Regions from separate parts of the Homo sapiens genome. Here region 1 is linked to region 2. A link means that fine-mapping ties the variant in region 2 to the expression of a gene that starts in the linked region. Tissue or cell type: blood mononuclear cells. Region 2 holds a variant in brackets; the other region holds the start of a gene. All regions are shown on one strand. Distances are between the middles of the regions.

Region 1 (5,376 bases), 27 kb after region 2:
GTAGAGATGGGGTGTGCCTACCACAGGAAAATTACAGGTGATAGAGTGCTTTACTTGCTGTTCAACTACTCACCCACAAGACTAGCATTTGGTGTTGTTTATTAAGAAGGTATTTACTAGCAGTCTTATTTAAAAAATGACCTGTGTTTAACTTTCCAGCCGCAGAAGAGAAAAAAGGTCTAGAACCCTGAAAAATTCCCATAGCAGAAGGAAGAAAGTAAAGGAAAATATGCTTTTAAAAAATGGAGAGAAAACAGGGGAAACGGCTGTAAGAGTTGTTTAATGATTTTAGCTATTTTCCTTAGATTACCATTTGTACTTTTTTTGTTTGTTTATGGTAAGATAGTTTTCATGTGCCAAAATTTCTGCTTGGACTAACAGAAAATTCATCCTGTAAGATTGTTATATGATCCCACAACGGTTAGGAGTGCCCTGGGTCCAGGCAGAAATCCAAAGATGGAGCTAATAATGTGACCCGCAGCTCTACTCCAGAATGCAGATGAATAGAGATTTTGAACAGTTCGGAGCTCAATGTCCACTGAATATGCACTCATACTTTAAACCTAAATAAAGTGAAGCCTTTGAGTTAAATGGCAGAGCGCCTCAGCAGCAATTTTGCTCGTTTTCAAGTTCTTATTTCGTGATTTGAAGCTTTTGACCTTGCTAGCATGTTCTTTCTGAACGCTTTTGCAGATGGTTGGTTATGGTGGGGAGTAGTAACCCTAGCATAAAGACGTTCTAATTCTAACTTACCTTAGGTAACCTATAAGGGTAGCTTACGCTCACTCTCATACTTGAAAATCAAAACCGAACAGAATTCACACGATGGAAGCAAATCATGCTACAACCTACTATTAGAGACTGAAGGGAAACGCACAAAGATTAATGAACAACAAAGAACACTTCAAAAAGTACAGTATTTGGAAAAGACATGCCTTTATGTACACTAAAACTAATTTAAAAAATTAAATGCAGTTTGCTAGGAGTCTTACAAGTATTAACAGCATGTTCACTGCTTAGGATCCTTAGTAGCAATATTTTCCCGGCTCGCCTGCCCCTATGCCTCATTTCCTCTTCTTTTTTTTTTTGAGATGGAGTTTCGCTCTTGCCGCCCAGGCCAGGTGCCATCTCAGCACTGCAACCTCCGACTCCCGGGTTCAAGCGATTCTCCTACCTCAGCCTCCCGAGTTGCTGGGACTACAGGCGCACGGCACCACACCCGGCTAATTTTTGTATTTTTAGTAGAGACGGGGTTTCACCATGTAGGCCAGGCTGGTCTCTAAGTCCTGACCTCAGGTGATCCGCCTGTCTCGGCCTCCCAAAGTGCTGGGATGACAGGCGTGAGCCACTCACCCGGCCCTCTTCTCGACTTTCTATCCCTCCTCCTCAACACCCTTTCCTTCTGGAAATGGGCTTTGGGGTGGTTAACCAAGCCCAGGGAAACTTGCGTGGCCCAGCATCTTCCGTCCGCTGCAGGAGGAGCACACGCCCCCGGCCCGGGTCAGCAAGACGCGAGAAAGCGGCCACGCCGGGCGTCCGGGAGCTGAGGCTGGAGGGCGCCTGGCAGGCAGGGCGGGGCCCAGGCGGCGGGAGTGCTTATGACCGGCGCTGGGGGGAACTTCTGGACGTCAAGGGGCCACTATAAAGCGGCACAGTCTTGAGCCTTCGCTCTTCACCTAAGTCAGTGAGCGCCCTTCGCAAAGCCTCTGTGGAGGTAACCATTGGGGGTTCGCCTCCAAATCCAGGAATGCACCTCAAAAATGCTCCTACACCGTAAGACCGTGTCCTTCAATGCAAAGGGGACTGTGCGGCGAGGCACCGACAAGCCGTAGCCCTGAGACCACTGAAAGCCTGCACCCCAGCGCCGGTGCGAGAACGTGGAGATGGCGGTGGGGAGGAGAGGTGGAGGCCATGCTCTCGCGTGATCTCCCCTACCGCCATCGTCTTCTGGCCTGTCAAGGCCTCGCGTTGTTTGGGCTTGGGGGCGGAGCGAGCCCTGAGGGGGGCGGGGCCAGATGGGGGCGTCTCCCGGCCTTGTTGACTTTGGCGTCCGCGGGGAGCTGCCCCTGTGCCCGTGGTTCTCTGCGCATGCCCGGACCCCGGCGGCTCCGGAGTCCGGGAGGCTCTGGCTGCTCCAGTCGCGGGTCCGGGCCCCGCCTCTCCACTCGGCGGTGGCGTCCGTGTTGTTATTGTGGTGGTAGCGGCGTCTGGCTGCTGCGGACCCCGCCGAGTCCTAGCGCCTGGCCTGCGCGCCGCTGCCCGCGCCACAGGTAACGCCGCCGCCAGTGGGGGCTCGGGGTCGTGGGGTGTGCGAGTCCCGCGTGCTAGGGCCGGGCGGGCGACTGGGATGCGCTTGGAGGCCAGAGGGCCAGGGGGACGGCAGCCGAAGAGTCGGGGGCAGGGGGACTTAAGGGCGGGCAGGTCGGGGGCCAGGAAACTGAGGCGCTGCGGGGCAGGTTGGGGGAAGGACGGGCCGGGGGCGGAGGACTTGGGAGGTCGGGGAGTCGAAAGGGGCCCAGCGAAGCCTGGAGGTCGGGAGCCGGGGTCCCTGGGGCCGGGGAGGTCGGGGGCCCGAGGGAGGCCGGGGCGCCGCGTCCTCGGCCCGTCCTCGGCTCGTCCTCGGCTCTGACCTGGGCTTGGGGACCAGAGTCCCGAGGCTGGCGTCTTGAGATGCCCGCGGGCCCCTTAGGGCCGTTTTGGATCCGCCCAGTGACTTCTGTTTTGGTTTTGGAGGCAGAGAATCCAGTCTACGTAGACTCGGGGAAGTCTCGGGGGCTGGGAGGGGACTGAGAGGTTATAGCAGGCGCCAAGGCCTCTTTTTGTGTTTTTGAGCGTCTACTACCGTTCCGGGGAAGTGCAGTGCCCGCGTTTTGCTTGGGGAATTTCAGACACCGGCATGGGGAGGACCCACGGGCAGAACCCGAGGGAGTAATTTTGCAAATCCAAGATTTTTTGGAACTTCTATAATTTTGTTTTCGTGTGTCCTCTTTTTAGAATCGAGAAACCAGAGATATATTTTTAACATTACAAATCAGAAGAATTTGCTACGGAGGAAAAAAGTATGCTTTTAGCAGTGTTTTTCCCCTATTTATTTTTTTAATTACAAAAGTACTGCTTGCTCCTTGAGAAAAACATGAAGCAGCCAAACAATGAGGAAACCTGCCCTCTCTCGCGCCCTTCCCCCCATATTTCTCCTTCTTACTACCCAGGGTAGCCAGTCTCCAAGTGTGGTGGGTAGTTATTCAGGATTTTTTTTTTCTGTGCATTTAATGAGTGTGCTTTAGAAACAAGATTGGGATCATATATAGTACAGTATATCGTTTTATTAGCCAACAATGCATCATGGATATTCCTCCATTTTATTACACACCTCATTATTTTAAAAAACATTATTACTATGTATTAGAGAATCCAATCTACGTAGGCTTGGGGAAGCCTTTTCTTCATTGTTAAACATGGTCGCCAAGTTTTCAATAATCAGTAGCTTTGAAAAGGGCTACAAGCCAATATTTTGAAACAATGTGGCAAAACTTTCAGAATGTCTGCGGCCAGACGACATTACTTTCGTATTAAGCAGATTAATATGTTTACGTATTGCTTAATGGTAGTTTACATGAGGCTAGATGACTCCATAAAACATAAAGTTGCTGAATTAGTTTACTTTTTGGTTTTTTTTATTTCATTTTTTTCTAAGTAAATTTTAATTCCATATGGTCAGTTGAACACTTGTAATTTCTTTAACATGAAGTAGCTAATATGTGAAGGAAAGGTAAGGTAGGAAAGATAGAAAGCTAGTGGCCCTAGCCTGAGACAAGAAAAAAAAAGCAACAGGGATTAAATATTTTGGTAAGTAAGCTATAGGGAGTAAACTGGAAGTGGAGGGGTGATACTACACTGCCTACTATTAAGTAAGACAGAAAGCTAGGAAATTCCCATTGCATACTGTATTTCTGTGTGCAGAAGAGCTGGAGGCTTTGTTGATTTAATCACTAGCTTGTATTTATTAAAAATGTACTGTGTTCATCTTGGTGCTAGCTTCCAGGGAAAGAACAACTGAGGAAGATAATCACGAACAACGTCTGGTTCTAAACATGCATAGCCTGAAATTTTAAGCCAAATTGTGTAGTATTTTATGATTTGGAAACTGTGCTCGAAAGGAATAAAAAAATCCATGACATTTTAGTTATTTTTGGTAATAATATGCTCATATATTTCTCATAACAACATAAATGACATTCTTCTCATTCTATAGAGTAATAAATAGAGGCTTTGAGTAAAAGAACTGCTCAAGATCCCATTGCTTTTTTTTTTTTTTTGTAATAGTGCGTGTTTATATTCAGGAGTGCTTAATCCAAGAACCTGTGTTTTCTGCTCTTGTTTTACCTCCTATGAACGAAAAATTGTTGCCCTTACGGTTTTTTCTGCTTTCTTTGAAATGTTCCTTACAGAATAACTACATGAATGTAATCACATGCATTTAAAATAGTCTAGAGAATATAGTGTGAAACTATAATGGTATTTTTTTAGATGAGGTTTCTGGTGGCATATTACTAAAATTTTAAACTCCTTGATCTTATGCTGTTAACCAAGAAGATGGGGATTTGTGTTACTTTAGACACTGCTGGGTGCCATGGTAAATTGGGATGTTATTGTAAATTGTAGCTCTCACAGCTGCGTATTGCTTACAAACTCGGAAGGATAGTCTCATATCAGTAAACATTTTTATGAACGTAGTTGAACTTTTTTGTAAATTAGTGTGCTGGAAAGAATACCAAGAGGGCCCTAAAAAAGTCTAAAAGGATTAAAATTTACTTATGTAATTATTGGTATTTTAAAATATTTGGTAGTCACTTAAAATGCATAATGACAGACAATAGGGTGTCATAATATGGTTTATTAATCTTTTTTCATTTTCCACTAGATGTGGCAACTACATAGTTGGAAGAAATGTGGCGGCCGGGGGCAGTGGCTCACGCCTGTAATCCTAGCACTTTGGGAGGCTGAGGCAGGTGGATCGCCTGAGGTCAGGAGTTCGAGTCCAGCCTGGCCAACATGGCAAAACCCCGTCTCTACTAAAAATACAAAAATTAGCCGAGCTTGGTGGTGGGCATCTGTAATCCCAGCTACTCGGGAGGCTGAGGCAGGAGAGTCGCTTGAACCTGCGAGTCAGAGGTTGCAGTGAGCCAAGATCGCTCCACTTCACTCCAGCCTGGTCAAAAGAGTGAGACTCTGTCTCAAAAAAAAAAAAAAAAAAAAAAAAAGAAATGGGACAAATACTAACATTAATAAAGTATGGTCAGTTGTAATCTGTATTTGAGAAGAAACCAAAAATACAGGAAAAGCTTTGACATTTTACTGGCAATTGTTAAGGATGAT
Region 2 (5,376 bases):
TATATTTTTGTCACAAAGTGAAGTTCCCCCCTTAGTACCCCTAAATAAGAAAGGTAGAGTTGCAATTTAATGCTACTAACAGCTATAAAAGAAAGCAGCAGTTTCCCTTGGCCAGGGCAAAGCAGCCACTACAAAACTTGACCATGGTTTCACTTCACAAACTGATAAATGGCACTCCTTATGTGCCAGGCAGTGACCTGAGTGCTTTACAATCAACGTTGACTTATGGAATCTTCTAGATGAGCCTGTGAGGTAGGTACTATTGTTAGCCTCATGATAAATAAGGAAAGAACATTTTTGTAGTCACTTCTCTGTGAGGTTTGAGGCTCAAGTTCTTGGAACTTTGAAACATCAGCCAACAACAAAACACTACCAACAAAAAGTTTGCTCCAGTAGAAGATGTGAAGCAACTGATGCATAAAATATCTTGTTATTTTTAAATGTTACTCTGGGTGAAAAATAAAAAGACTATTAAAAAACTCTTCTGTCAGTGGTCCCTTGGAGCTCTGAAGTAAATTTAAAACATAATGATTGGAAAGGAGCCTCCTTTCACACTTGGAAAAGAAGTCCCCAAAACTCTGGGTGCTGTCTGAGACCTTGCAACTTCAAATTGCTGGGGGTGGAGCCCAGGACACTAGGGTGGAGGCTGTCACTCCCCACACTACTGGGACTTAGAGACTCAGAGCCAGCTCTTGGTCCTCTCTGCAAAGAATACGTAGGAAGTAGTTTAATTTTCAGTAAAAGAAGAAATGTTTTTCAACGTGGTCACCTGCAGAAACTACAGTCCACCTTTATAGTGGTAAAATATAATTACGGTCTTGAGAATTTCCCTAAAAGATTCTGCATGGGTTGAAATTTGGGCTTCAAATCAGCAAAGGGAGGATGGGACACAGCTTCTGTGAAAGTTCCTCTAAGGAGGATGCAGCTTCAAGTGAGTAACCTGTGATACCTTTTCATTCTGGATGGATAGAAGAGCTTATCTGAAAATAAAACCTAAATTTGTGTGGGAGTTTTTTTTAACTCCTTGCAATACCCGGATGGATGGATGGATGGATGGATGCATGGATGGATTGAGACAGTGTCTCCTTCTGTTGCCCAGGCTGGAGTACAGTGGCACAGTCAAGGCTCACTGTAACCTTGACCTCGCAGGCTATGGGGATTTATTGCGAAGCAAGAAGTAAGTAATCAAGAAAGGGGAGTAGGGAGTGCAACTGTACTCGAGAGAGAGTAGCACCCAATGGGGTTTGAGGCTTCTACTTCTTTAACCAAGGAATATTCACACCGATTCCTGGAAAAAGGTGAAGATTCCTTGGAACTGCGGTACCACCTATTTTTACCCCAAATATAGATGTTCCCAAAACTGTCATGGCACTGGTGGGTAATGGATTTAATGTTTTACTGAGCATATAATGAGGTCCTAGGTAAAACCTAGGTCAAATCCAGCACCATGTTGGGTCCAGTTGGTCTCAGTAAGCTTGGTCCACTCCCTGGTTTTCAGGTTTTCTCATCCCCTAGCTCATGCAGCCATTTCAACAGTTTTCTTTGGCTAGCCATGTGAAACTGCTGCCTAGAATTTTCTCCTGTGACCACCCTGTATTATTTCTGTCTCAACCTGAGGAGCTCTTCTGGTAGTCTTCATGTGGCTAAAGCTTAAGTTACAACTAGCTGGGTGTGATGGCTCATGCCTATAATCCCAGCACTTTGGGAGCCTGAGGCAGAAGGATCACTTGAGCCCAGAAGTTTGAGACCAGCCTGGGCAACATGGTGAGACACTGTCTCTATAAACACACACAAAAAAATTATTTTAAAAAAAGAATGAACTGTTAATGCACAGAATAAATCATGGGCTTTGGAATGAGAATTGGGATTAAATCCAAAATTAGGTGACCTTGAGCAACACCTGTAAGTTTCTATTCTGTTTCCCCAACTATAAATGGAAATACGATTATTCATTCTTTCATTCTGTAGGGACTAATGAAAACTTTCCTTTCAACCTCTGAAGGTTCACTGAAAATAAACTGACAAAGGCAGATTGATAGGAGAAATGGCATACCCATTGATTAGTGTGCAGGGAGCAGGAGAAATCACAGAGTGATTGCTGCATCACGCATAAAGTATACAGATGGTTATATACCTTTCTTCTTAGGGGAAAGGACGATGGAAAAGTGTAGATTATTTTAGGGAGTAGTAAATTAGTTTTAGGGGAATTCGATGGGCTTGAAAAACACTCAGTAACCTGGGACAAACT[T/C]TGTTTGGGCCCACAGGGCAGACAATGGTTTCTTGCTTCCTGTGATATGAGTTTGAAATAGGCCCAACTGTCTCATAGAAATGATATATATGGGTTTTTGAATAACACAGAAATGGACCCTCCATCTTAATATTTAAAACTTATATTTGTCTTAACTGTGTTCCTTCTTCAGGAAACTGACCCTCAGGCAAGGGACTAAAACTCGTCAGATCACCGCATCCAGACAATGAGATGCCAGACCTCGTATCCATCATAATTGCTTCCTTACTCCTCCCTAATTTCTGTTTTCCCTGCCTTCCCCTCTATATAAATGATAGATGCAGGAGGCAGATAAGGGAGGCTACCTGGAGAATCTCCAATCCATCCCACAAGTGTTCATATCAGATGCTTTTGTGCAGAGGGGGAACATGCCCAGGGCCTTGTCTGGACATGCCCACAATGGACTGGGGGCCTGCCTGCACACTGGGAGTATGGGGTGGAGCCACCAGGGATCAGCACCTTATGCAGTAGGGAGGAGCCTGGACTCCTCAGCTTGTATGTGTGGTGCCCTGATATTCAATCTGTGAGGTGGGAGCCTGCTGTCAGGACCCCCTTTTTATTCACTGAGAGCTTTCTTTTAATAAATTCTGCTCTCCTCACCTTTCAATGTTTCCACATGCCTAATTTTTCCTGGTTATGTAACAAGAACCAGGATGTTAGGTGAACTAAGGAGCAAAAAATCCTGCATCATAAACATCCCAATTTTGGTCAGTTGGAGAGACAGATTTGAGACTGACCTCCTGTTCTCCTCCACTGAGCACCCAATAAAGCCTTCTTCCCTGGCAATACTCATTGAGTCAGTGATTGGCATTCTGTACATGGAGCAGCAAGTCCTAGACAGAATCCCTGGTGTTTCAGTAAAAAGTTCAGTTAATGAAAACTCAGGGAAGAAATCAGAGATAATTGTTTTCTTCTTTGGTAGGTCTGGACTTTGGGCAGACAAGGGAACTTCAGAGAACAACTTTAGCCTGTGTTTTGGGAGAGACAGAGGATTGAGAGACTAGAGAGAGGGGAGAGTCAGAGAGACCTTGAGGCTCCTTCAGTTCAGCATATCAAACTACCATATCTTGGAGTATCAGTTTCTAAGCCCTAACATTTTGTTCAACAAATACTTATTTAAGACTTACTTTATTAGGGTAAAAAGCTAAGCTACTGATGACTAAACTCTGATTTTTTTTTTATCTTGCCCAAATTCCTATCTAAGGTGTCTAGGGAGTCATGCCCTACAAACCATAGATTCTCATCAGACAGGTTTTATTTAACCCTATATATTGTGACTTATTTTCCAAACCTGATTCTGGCATAACTGTAAATTAAAGAAAGTGGAAAGAAACATGAAAAGTGGCTCCACAGTCAAAGACATATTTATTTTGGAGAATAAACCTGAGAGGGGCTTCTGGCCGATTTTGGTCAGGAATGCTATCTCTTACAGACTAAGAGAATTTATTGGTTTTAGGGTGAGAGAGCTTATCACAAGCTTGGAATGTTTCCGTGTAGGGGAGAAGTTTATGGTGGGGTTGGAATGTCTCTGCTCAGAGGGGAGGTTATCTCGGGGCTGACATCTTTCCGGCAGGACGGGGGTTATCTTGGGGCTGACATCTCTCCAGCCGGAGGGGAGGTAATCTCGGGGCTGGCATGTCTCTGGTCGGGGACAGGTTTATCTTATGTTTGGAATGTTTCTGGTGATAAATGTCATTTGTGCTTTATGATCATGCTGACCTTAGCCATTAGGCTGACGCCCTTTGGATTTGGGCAGCTTTTGATCAAGCTGAACTTTAAAATGGTGGTGCTCATCCAAGATGGCGATGCTCCTGTTCTGTCAATAACATTATGAGACAAGGGAGAAAATAAAAATATTTTACCGGCAAAACATGTTTTTTGTCACATTTTGAAATAGCTCTGCAAGCCATCCTTTGTGGGGGAAAATTCGTATCTGTAAAGAATCCCTATTAACACAACTAGACATTTTCCTTCCAGGCCCCTCCAATTCTAAATAGATTAACTGAGAGTCTAGCACTCTTTAAAGGGTCTGAATAGGAAACATTTGTCATCTATTGTTTCTAAGGGGAGCCGCCATGAGACTTCAAAAGAACTTTGGTTTCCACAATCTTCTATCTTTGTAAGGTCAGCCAAGAGAAAGGACAAGAGAGAGAGACCCAAGTTCAGGCAAACCTTTATTCAACCTGCCGGCTGCTCCATTACAGACAGAGGAGGCAGCCCTGAGCTTAAAAAATGAGGGGTTTATACGGGGCAGAGAGACCCTGGGGTTGTTTGCTGGTTAATTCTGCCACAAACCGCCTTATGATGTTTATGATACATGGGGGTGTAGGTAAATTTTGCTTATGCTTCCCACGACCTCCCCCGTGTGGTCTGGATGGTTTGTAATTGGGATTTGCTCATCGCAGCAAGGTCTGATAAGTGGTCTGCTGGCTCCACCACGGTGCCTAAATAAGGGCTTAGAAATGTAAAAAGTCTTAGGGGAAGGGGAGGGGTAGCCCGGAGAAGTTTAGAGGGGGGTTGTTGGCAGTACCAAGAAGCACTTTCAGGGTGATTTGTCCCTAACAATCTTAATCTGAATGTTTGCTTTCTATTGATCCCAGGTCCTTAGACAAAAACTCAATCAACTGTCAACCAGAAATGTTTAAATTTACCTATAGCTTGGAAGCTCCGCCCCCTTCAAGTTGACCTGCCTTTCTGGAACAAACCAATGTATTCCTTAAATGTATTTGATTGATAGATTATGCTTCCCTAAAATTTGTAAAACCAACCTGCACCCCAAACACCTTGGGCACATGTTCTCAGGACCTCCTGAGGGCTGTGTCATGGGCCATGGTCACTCATATTTGGCTCAGAATAAATATCTTTAAATATTTTACAGAGTTTGACTTTTCGTTGACACTACCATTACAAAGCGCCTCAACAATACAAAGACTCAAACAAAAAACCTACTTCTTTTCACATTAACAGTTGCAAGCTGTAAGCTATCTTTTTGGTGGGGCAGCTCTACTTTTGGAAGCGATTCATATTCAGGAACCTCATTCTTTCCCTTAGGGCATTGGTGACATCTGCCTGGCTGAAGCTGGATCACT

Evidence for each region.
Region 1: it holds the start of PCMTD1, and the variant in region 2 is fine-mapped to the expression of PCMTD1 in blood mononuclear cells (TOPMed, PIP 0.99).

What each region holds. Positions count from the first base shown.
Region 1 is chr8:51,895,824-51,901,199 of GRCh38, reverse strand. PCMTD1 (protein-L-isoaspartate (D-aspartate) O-methyltransferase domain containing 1) reads left to right here and starts at 2,164. Exons shown (of 6, transcript NM_052937.4): 1 at 2,164-2,270. PCMTD1-DT (PCMTD1 divergent transcript) reads right to left here and starts at 1,885. Exons shown (of 4, transcript NR_189279.1): 1 at 1,354-1,885. RefSeq lists enhancers at 1,048-1,107, 1,408-1,467, 1,638-1,927 and a silencer at 1,968-2,657.
Region 2 is chr8:51,922,608-51,927,983 of GRCh38, reverse strand. The region is part of intron 2 of PCMTD1-DT (PCMTD1 divergent transcript); the gene reads right to left. Among named protein-coding and RNA genes, the nearest start is that of PCMTD1-DT, 26 kb to the right of the region's middle. RefSeq lists an enhancer at 1,755-2,954. The variant T/C (reference allele first, on the strand shown) is at 2,249.